Linked DNA regions of Homo sapiens. The protein of the gene in region 1 interacts with the protein of each later gene in a pairwise test. Each region holds a gene or a part of one and is shown on either strand. Other genes may lie near its edges.

What was found. Proteins that work in one complex are often made in the same cells at the same time.
Region 2: the proteins of CCNYL1 (region 1) and CDK16 interact in binary tests that used the Homo sapiens proteins (3 or more experiments, as listed by UniProt).

What each region holds. Positions count from the first base shown.
Region 1 is NC_000002.12:207,738,682-207,743,237, reverse strand, and holds part of CCNYL1 (cyclin-Y-like protein 1), read right to left. Parts: intron 2,584-4,556; coding exon 2,532-2,583; intron 1,016-2,531; coding exon 896-1,015; intron 1-895. UniProt on the Homo sapiens protein: Key regulator of Wnt signaling implicated in various biological processes including male fertility, embryonic neurogenesis and cortex development. Activates the cyclin-dependent kinase CDK16, and promotes sperm maturation.
Region 2 is NC_000023.11:47,217,188-47,221,480, reverse strand, and holds the start of CDK16 (cyclin-dependent kinase 16), read right to left. Parts: upstream 2,801-4,293; 5' UTR 2,376-2,800; intron 1,197-2,375; exon of another isoform or gene 1-1,196. UniProt on the Homo sapiens protein: Protein kinase that plays a role in vesicle-mediated transport processes and exocytosis. Regulates GH1 release by brain neurons. Phosphorylates NSF, and thereby regulates NSF oligomerization. Required for normal spermatogenesis.

The DNA of each region.
Region 1 (4,556 bases):
ACTCCTGCTTCTCTACAGTATGTGCTAAGTGTTCCAAATGGCTTACAGCTCCATGAAAAGGCCTAAGTCTGATCCAGTACCCACTGAGGGGCTTCTATTCAAGTGCACAGAAGCCTTCTCTCCTAAATTCCAATTGGATGCTAAAGGAGTAGGTACTGACCTAAGTATTCTTTCCCTCCAGGCCATGCAGTTGACCTTCCTCTATAGGTTTGCTGTGGGGAGGAGTAAAACAATCCTAACCACTTGAATAGGATTTATTATTCAATGATAAAATCTTACCATAGGAATTCTGTATGGAGGACATAAAGTTAAGGACACAGCTATAGCTTAGTAAGCTAATCAGCAAAGCCTTTGTCCAAGTATTGCTGGTACCACATTGCTGGGCAACATCACGAGCAGGCACAAGAGGTAGGCAGAGATGATTAAAACCCATCATCCAAGGAACAAAGAATTTAGGGCAATAGTTCTCAATCACCACACATATCGGAAATACCTGGGGAATAGAGCCTGGGACTTGGCTTAGACCTACACTGGAATCAGTATCTGGCTCTGAACCACATGGTTTTGTTACCACTCCCCATCACCCCCAGCCCTGCCACCATGCCTTGTATGTGTACACACTGAATGTGTACATGTGCATTGATGGGTAGGGGGAGAAACCAGAAATCTCCCCGGCTGCCTTTTGTAGCAACTGTTCTGTGATGAGAAAAGCAATGGAAACATGTTCAACCATAATGATGATTAAACGCGAATGTACGTATTTATGTTCCTTTCATAGGTTTCTCTTAAAGTTCTGATGATAATTTCAGGAACCTATTTTTATTTGAAAAATAGGACCATACCCTGTGTACAAGACTAATTTCTAAAGACACTTTATAAATGAGAAATATCTTACCAAAGTTACTATTGCACATTCAGCTGTTAGCTGTGCAGCACTAAAAAGAGTACGAACAAATCTGTAAATAAATTTGTGCTCAGGATCATGCTTAAAGTATTCCTCTGGAACTTTTTCTCGCTGAAAGAAGAAAAGATGCAATGTTAGTATCCACTGAAGAAAAAAATTTTAAGCTTTTTTTTTTTTTTTTTGAGACTGAGTTTCACTCTTACTGCCCAGGCTGGAGTGCAATGGCATGATCTTGGCTCACTGCAACCTCTACCCCCCGGGTTTAAGTGATTCTCCTGCCTCAGCCTCCTGAGTAGCTAGGATTACAGGCACCCGCCACCACGCCCAGCTAGTTTTTGTATTTTTAGTAGAGACGGGGTTTCAACATGTTGGTCAGGCTGGTCTCAAACTCCTGACCTCAGGCAATCCACCTGCCTTGGCCTCCCAAAGTGCTGGGATTACACGCGTGAGACACCACGCCCGGCCTAAGTACTTTTTTTTTTTTTTTTGAGACCCAGTCTTGCTCTGTCGCCCAGGCTGGAATGCAGTGGCACAATCTCGGCTCACTGCAACCTCCACCTCCCAGGTTCAAGTGATTCTCCTGCCTCAGCCTCCTGAGTAGCTGGGATTACAGGCGTGCACCAACATGTCCGGCTAATTTTTTGTATTTTTAACAGAGGCAGGGTTTCACCATGCTGGCCAGGCTGGTCTCAAACTCCTGACCTCATGATCTGCCCACCTCGGCCTCCCAAAGAGCTGGGATTACAGGGGTGAGCCACCATGCCCAGCTGGCCTAAGTACTCCTAAGACCAGCAGTGTTGACGTTTGAGCCCATGTACCCCTTAAAATAATTCTGGTTGAGTGACATGACTTTTAGTTTTTAAAATATAAACAATTGGATCTTAAAATATCATAGTGATTCAATACTCATCACCATTTATCATTAAGGAAAAATACAGGCACAACTCAGAAAATTTTTATGTTCCTTTCCACTTTCTATCCACAGAATTCTATCAAAATGTAAACTACTTGTAGGCTCGAAAGTCTTACTAATCATATGTTAGGATTCTCTTAAATACACTTTGAAAAATTTTTTTTTTTTGAGATGGAGTCTCACTGTCGCCCAGGCTGGAGTGCAGTGGAGCGATCTTGGCTCACTGCAAGCTCCGCCTTCCACGTTCACGCCATTCTCCTGCCTCAGCCTCCCAAGTAGCTGGGACTACAGGCGCCTGCCACCGTGCCCGGCTAATTTTTTGTATTTTTAGTAGAGACGGGGTTTCACTGTGTTAGCCAGGATGGTCTTGATCTCCTGACCTCGTGATCCGCCTGCCTCGGCCTCCCAAAGTGCTGAGATTACAGGCATGAGCCACCGTGCCCGGCCTGAAAAAATATCTTTAGTTTCCTGTAACCATAAGGCTCAAAGGCTTCACTGTCCAAGACAATAGTCATTAGCCACGAGCGGCTATCATATACCTGAGGAAGTGAATTTTTAAATGTTTACACCATTTTAATTGATTTAAATTTAAATTGTTTTCTAATTATCTTCATAGAGATCATGTATATTTGTTAGGACTATTTATAAATATCAGCATGAAATAAACACAACTCTATGAGAGAAAAATACTACCTCAAAAAAAGTGACACTTACTGTAAGTGGATGTGATCTCTCATCAAAAATATCCAGGGATCTATTTGCATCTCTATAAAATAAGAATATGCATTGAAGAAGTTAATTCAGGAATTGTTAATATCTGAGTAAAATGTCTGCTGGGGGTGGCGGGAGATGCCTCCTGTTTGCTTTGGTGTTTGCTTCACCAAAGCAAAGAGTTGTACAAATTCTTCTCCGGGATGCCAGCCTTCAGAGGATTTCCTGACCTCTTTTTACTCAGCATATGAGGTTCTGTACTGTGAGGTCTTTTCTACAATGACGATTCAGAATTGCCTTTAAGTATTGGCCCTCCCTAACAGGCAATGGTAATAAAGTATATTTTCACTCTTCTAACCCCTCATTGGAACTCAAGAACGTTTTACACAGCAGTAGTGGTGGGCAATAAACTCTTTAGAACTTTAATGACTGTGAATGAAATTCAGATTTCCCAGGCTTTTCCTTTCTAGTTCTCCGTATTACATTCTTGACATGTATTTGTTTAAGTAGTTTGATGAGTTAAAAACCTTATTGTCTTTTTATTTTAAAAGAGACAAGGCTTTGATAATCTTTACAAGTTTATAAAACTAATACATTGTGCTCATTTAATAAAACCAGTGGTTCTCCAAGTGTGGTCTGTGGACTTCTGGAGACCCTCTAGATCCTTTTCCAAGAGGTCCTTGAGGTCAAAACTGTTCTTTTAAGAATACTTATTCAACCTGAGAAAGCTGATTGAAAATTTAGAAATAAAAATAATTTAAAAAAAAAGAATACTAAGGTATTGCTTGCTTTTTGACTGTATGACATTTGTAATGAGTGTATAACAGCAAAAGTGGGCAAACTGCTGGCTTCTCAGCATGAATCAAGGCAGTGCTACCAAATTATACTAGAAGTTATGCTACTCTTTACTGCCTCTTGCAGTTTAAGAAAAACACCTGCTTCACTCATGAATATCCTTGCTGAAGCAGTAAAAATTAATGGTATTATTAAATCTTGACCTTTCTTTTCACTATTCTGGAGTAAGCAGAAAGTTCACATAAAGTAATTCTGCATACCGAGGTAGAGTTGTGTTAAGGAAAAGCACTTGTGATTTAATTGTGAGCTAAACAAGCCATTTTTTTTTCACAGAATATCATTTTTACTTGAAAGTACAAATGTCATTCTCAAAAATGAAAGAAGTGGCCAGGTGTGGTGGCTCATGCCTATAATCCCAGCACCTTGGGAGGCTGAGGCGGGTGGATCACTTGAGGTCAGGAGTTCGAGACCAGCCTGGCCAACAGGGTGAAACCCCATCTCTACTAATACAAAAATTAGCCAGGCATGGTGACAGGCGCCCGCAGTCCCGGCTACTCAGGAGGCTGAGGCAGGAGAATCACTTGAACCCGGAAGGCAGAGGTTACAGTGAGCGAAGATGGCACCAGTGCCCTCCAGCCTGGGCAACAGAGTGAGACTCAGTCTCAAAAGATAAATAAATAAAAAGTTTTAAAAAAATGAAGCCTGTCACTTCAAGAAAATAACACTATTTGTTGCAATGATAAAATTCAAGCTTTCAAACTAAAAATCAGGATTTGGAGAAACTTGTACCTTATTATGTGAGTTTAACAGCTTCTCAATACTTAAAGATTTTTTAATACAATTGGTGGTGATACTAACAAAAGTGAGCTTTGCCACTGTCAAGAAATGTGAACCAGGCTGGGTATGGTGGCTCACGCCTGTAATCCTAGCACTTTGGGAGGCTGAGGTGTGCGGATTGCTTGAGCTCAGGAATTCAAGACCAGCCTGGGCAACATGGTGAAACACTGTCTCTACTAAAAATACAAAAAATTAGCTGGTATGGTGGTATGTATTTGTAATCTCAGCTACTTGGGAGGTTGAGACAGGAGAATCGCTTGAACCCGGGAGGCGGAGGTTGCAGTGAGCTGAGACTGCACCACTGCACTCCAGCCTGGGTGATGGAATGAGACTCTGTCTCAAAAAAAAGAAAAAAAAAAGAAAGAAGAGATGTGAACCAATATTTTCCATATAACC
Region 2 (4,293 bases), on another chromosome or scaffold:
AGTTCAGTTTTTTGGGATTTTAGGAAGATGGGGTGTAAAATCTGTATATCACATAACACTCCCAGAAAGGGGGATGGGGGTCTCAGACATGCCCCTGTGAACAGAGATAATTGAACATTTATACGCAAGGAAACTTTTAAATATCATTTCAGTTGAATGAGCTTTTTAGATTTCAAAAAAGGAGGGAGCAAGAAACTGGACATAAAACCTTACCCCAAAAAAGGCACATGTCCTGCCTGACCCTTCCTGATCCCCAAAGACATACACCCATCCTCAGACTACTCTCATACTCAAGGATACTCAACACACCAACCACTAAGGACTTGGTCATCGCACCCTATGTCCTGATCCCCATTAATACACGCTAGACCCTCAAGGAGGCCTCACTACATCTTACCTGCTATTATCTCATATACCCATCAGCATTCAAAGCCCTAACACATAACATACCGCCCTGAACTCTGTCAGCACACACTTAGCCTCCTCTAAGTAACTCTTGCCACCACATTCTTGGGCCCCTCCCTGGCCTAGCTGCTTGTTACCTTCTCCATAGTACTGACTCCCCTCATTAACGTACTGTTCCCCCTACATGATTCTGACCTCTATTAACATGCACTTGGGGTACTCTATAGCTGACCCACATTAGCACTCACTGGACCTTCTTCATGCTGCTCTGAATGCTATTAACATAAAGTGAACCTTACAGATAGATCTCTAACCAGTGTTACCCACACTCAGGCCCCTTCACAGCTACGACCATCCTTAACACACATTCCAGTCCTTCCACTGTCCTGTCCCCTCTGTCAGCACAAACTGAGTCTTCACTCAGGCCTGATTTCTATTAGCACACGCCGGGCCTCACACAGTCCTGCCTCCCCATTAGTGCACCCTGAACCCTTACTCAGCCCTATTCCGCAGGGACACACAAACACACTGTTCTACCATGGCCTGACCCTCATTAGTGCACACAGGTCTCATTCAGCCCTGACTCCCATTAGCACACACTTCAGCCCTCCCTAGCTGTAATCCACTTTAGCACACCGAGATCATCACACATTCCTGTCCTCTATTGCTCTCTGCTCAGAGATATCTCCACAGATATAATCCTTGTTGGTTCACACTTAGATCCCTTCATGAAAGCCCTGATCCCCCTTATTACACACTAGATCCCCTCCGCAGCCCTACCCCCGAGTAGCACCCCCTGGAACCTCAACATACTCTGGTCCTCCGCGGACACAAGGGCACAATCTTCACAAGGTTCTGATGCTTATTAGCATATTCCAGACTTCACACAGCTGACTCTCGAAATGGCACACATTGAAGTGCCTCTATGTCTCTAAACCCACATTAGCAACCACCAGTACTTCTATTACCCTGCTCCTTCCTAGTGTGCCCTCGAGACTCACATTCCCTGTGTCCATGGACACACTCACACCTCACATCACCTTTACCCTTCGTCCACTAAGCCTCTGACAGTGCTAAGACACTTCCCCACCACTCCTTCCTGGGCCCAGACAGACACGCAATTCTCATCTCCTTTAGGCCAGGCTCAGGTATTCCACAGTCCTTCCTCCGTTAGATACCCTCAGGTCCTTCCTCCACTCTGCCCTCATTAGCATATACTGGGTCCCAAACTACCTAGACCTTCGAGGCCACAGGCATACACCCTCTACAGCCATGACCCCCACTGGCGCACACACCACACTCGAGTCCTTCAGCTACCTGCCCTCCACAAGCACACACTGCATTCTCACACACTGCAGGCCCCACGGACAGACACGCAGTATTAACACCATCCAGGGCCTCATCGCCACGCACCAGGCCTCAGAGCCCTGACCCCACCAACACACGTTCTGGTACCTGTGCCACCCTGTCCCCCATGAACACACACCGGGCCTCTCTGCGGACATAATCCCTATGAGCATGTCTTAGAACTTCCTCGACACCCTACCCCCCGTTATACACCCTCGGGTCCCTCACCCGCTCCGCACCCCGCCCTCCTTCCACAAGCACACACGGGGCCTTGAACCTTACACGACTTATTGGCGTGAGGCTTACTGCCACATGCTCCGACCCCCATCAGCAACCCCCCCAAGTCTTTCACCCCATTGTCACCCATTTCCACACCCTTTGGTCCTTTGACTCCCCCAGGTCCCCATTAGCACCCACAGCACTACCCAACCCCAGCTCCCAGGACAGGCCCAGGGCGGGGCCAAGGTCAGGGAGGCCCCAAATGACCCCCCGCCCCGGTGCATTCTGGGAAATTCGCCGGGGGTGGGGGCACCTGCCAGCCCCGCAGCCCAGACCCCTGGGCACCGCCCGAGGTGGGTTCTGAAGGAGGAGGGGCAGCCTCCACGCCTCGGGGACGCGCTCACCGGCGGGGGCGCGCGAGCAACCTCAGAGCCGCGGGGCCGGCGCGGCGGCGCCTGGGGCGGCGGCCCGGGATGAGGCCGCGCGACCTCCTTCTCCTCCTGTTCGCCGCAGGCGCCCGTCCCAGTAGTCTTCAGCCATGGTTGCTGGGCCCGGGCCGCCGCCGGCTGAGGAGGAGGAGGCGGCGGCGGCGGCGGTGGCTGAGGCGGAGGCGGCGTCCCGCTCAGCCGGCCATGAGCTTGGCCGCTGCGGGCGATGCCCCCGGACTCGTTGGCGCCGGCTTGAATCCGAGTGCTCACGGCGGCTCGCGGCACAGAGCGGTCTGATCGCGGAGTGGCGGCGGATCCCAGGGCCGAACAGCCAACGGCCCAACCGCCGCGCGCGCCGCGCTCCGCGCATGCGCACGCAGGCGCTCGGAAGGGTGAAGTGGAAAGGAGGGGACTCACCTCGGACTGCATGTACCAAAGGACCCGTCCGCAGCGGGAGGGGACGCGGCCATCGCGAGCCCAGAGGAGGATGCGGCGCCAAGCCGGAGACGGCACCAGGGAGAACTGTGGAGGCTGTTTAGTACTCAGTTCCGATCTTGGCAGAAGTTTGCTAGCGCCTAGGTGAGCAGTGGCCAGTAACCTGGCGCGTCAATCACCACTCGTTCCCCCTACTCGGTCTCACTTGGTACATCCCCATGGTGGCAAACGGGACTTTTGCAAGGAGGAAAAAAGACAAATGAAGCACTCAGTTCTAGTCCCTTGAGGTGCTTGGGGAGGAAGGCATTTTAAAGGTTCGCGAGAAGATGACTTTTCGAGGAGAGGCAGCCTGAAGAGTTATTGGCCTTTACCACCTTAGCTAGGACGGCCTATCCCCGCCCAACTGCCCCCTCCACCGCTACCTCATTCCCGTAGTGAACGTGTGCAGCCCCGCCCTTTGAGGTTGTCGCCCAGCCAATCTGATTTGCTCTCTGTGGCGAGGCCGAGCAAGAATAAAGGGCGTGGCTGACTGAAGAGGCGTGATTTCGCTCTCTACCCGACTCCGCACGCCTCCGCCCAGGTTTCATAGGTTTTCACCGTCGGCGGGGGTGGGGTCTCCTTTTTGTTCTGAGCTCCTCCTTCGCTATAGGCCGAATATTCCGCAAGGTGATTGGTCATAATTGCGCTCAATCGAGTCTCGTCCCGCCTTTAGCCCGCCCTCCATCTCATACAGCGGGCCTCCCGGGGTGGAACCCAGGCTGAGAAAGAAGGAAAGAGGCGGATCCTTAGAGGCGCAGGAGCCGCTACTGCGCATGCTTGGAACTTCGAGCGGGGCGGAGCCTCTTTTCTGCCTCACACGAGTATTTGCATAGGCGCCGTGCGTTGGATTTTCCTGCCACCTCTCTTGCCCGGCACAGCCCCTCCCGTGCCTCCCCTCACTCTGAGGGTTTTTTGTTTTGTTTTGATGTCAGTCAACACAAGTAGAACACTCCGCGGTTTTATTTCCATTTTATTTATTGGGCGCATGTTGTGTGCCAAGTACTACCAGGCCGACCTAATCCTTCACTTCCTTCTGCCTGGAAAACCACACTATCCCCAAGTCCAGCTCAAAGGGCTGCAACCTCCAGCAGGCCTTCTGGCACATCCTTACACTACCCTGTTCCAAGGCAGCCTCCCCGCCTCTTCCGGGCTTCCCTTTATGGCAGCCTTGATCACAGCAGTTAGGATTTTCAGTAAGGTTTACATTAGTGAGATTTCCCGGGCCATGATGGGAGTGGAAATATTTGACAAAGATAAAAGTCCTCGCCTTGGCATAGAACAGGCTCATCACTTCTCTGACCTCATCTCTTCCTCTTCTTCCCCTGACTCACTGCCACCATACTAGCGCTCTTTCTAGCTGTTTGAGTGAAACGGGCACAATCCAGCCTCAGGGGTTTTGCATTTGCTGTGGTTCCCTTTG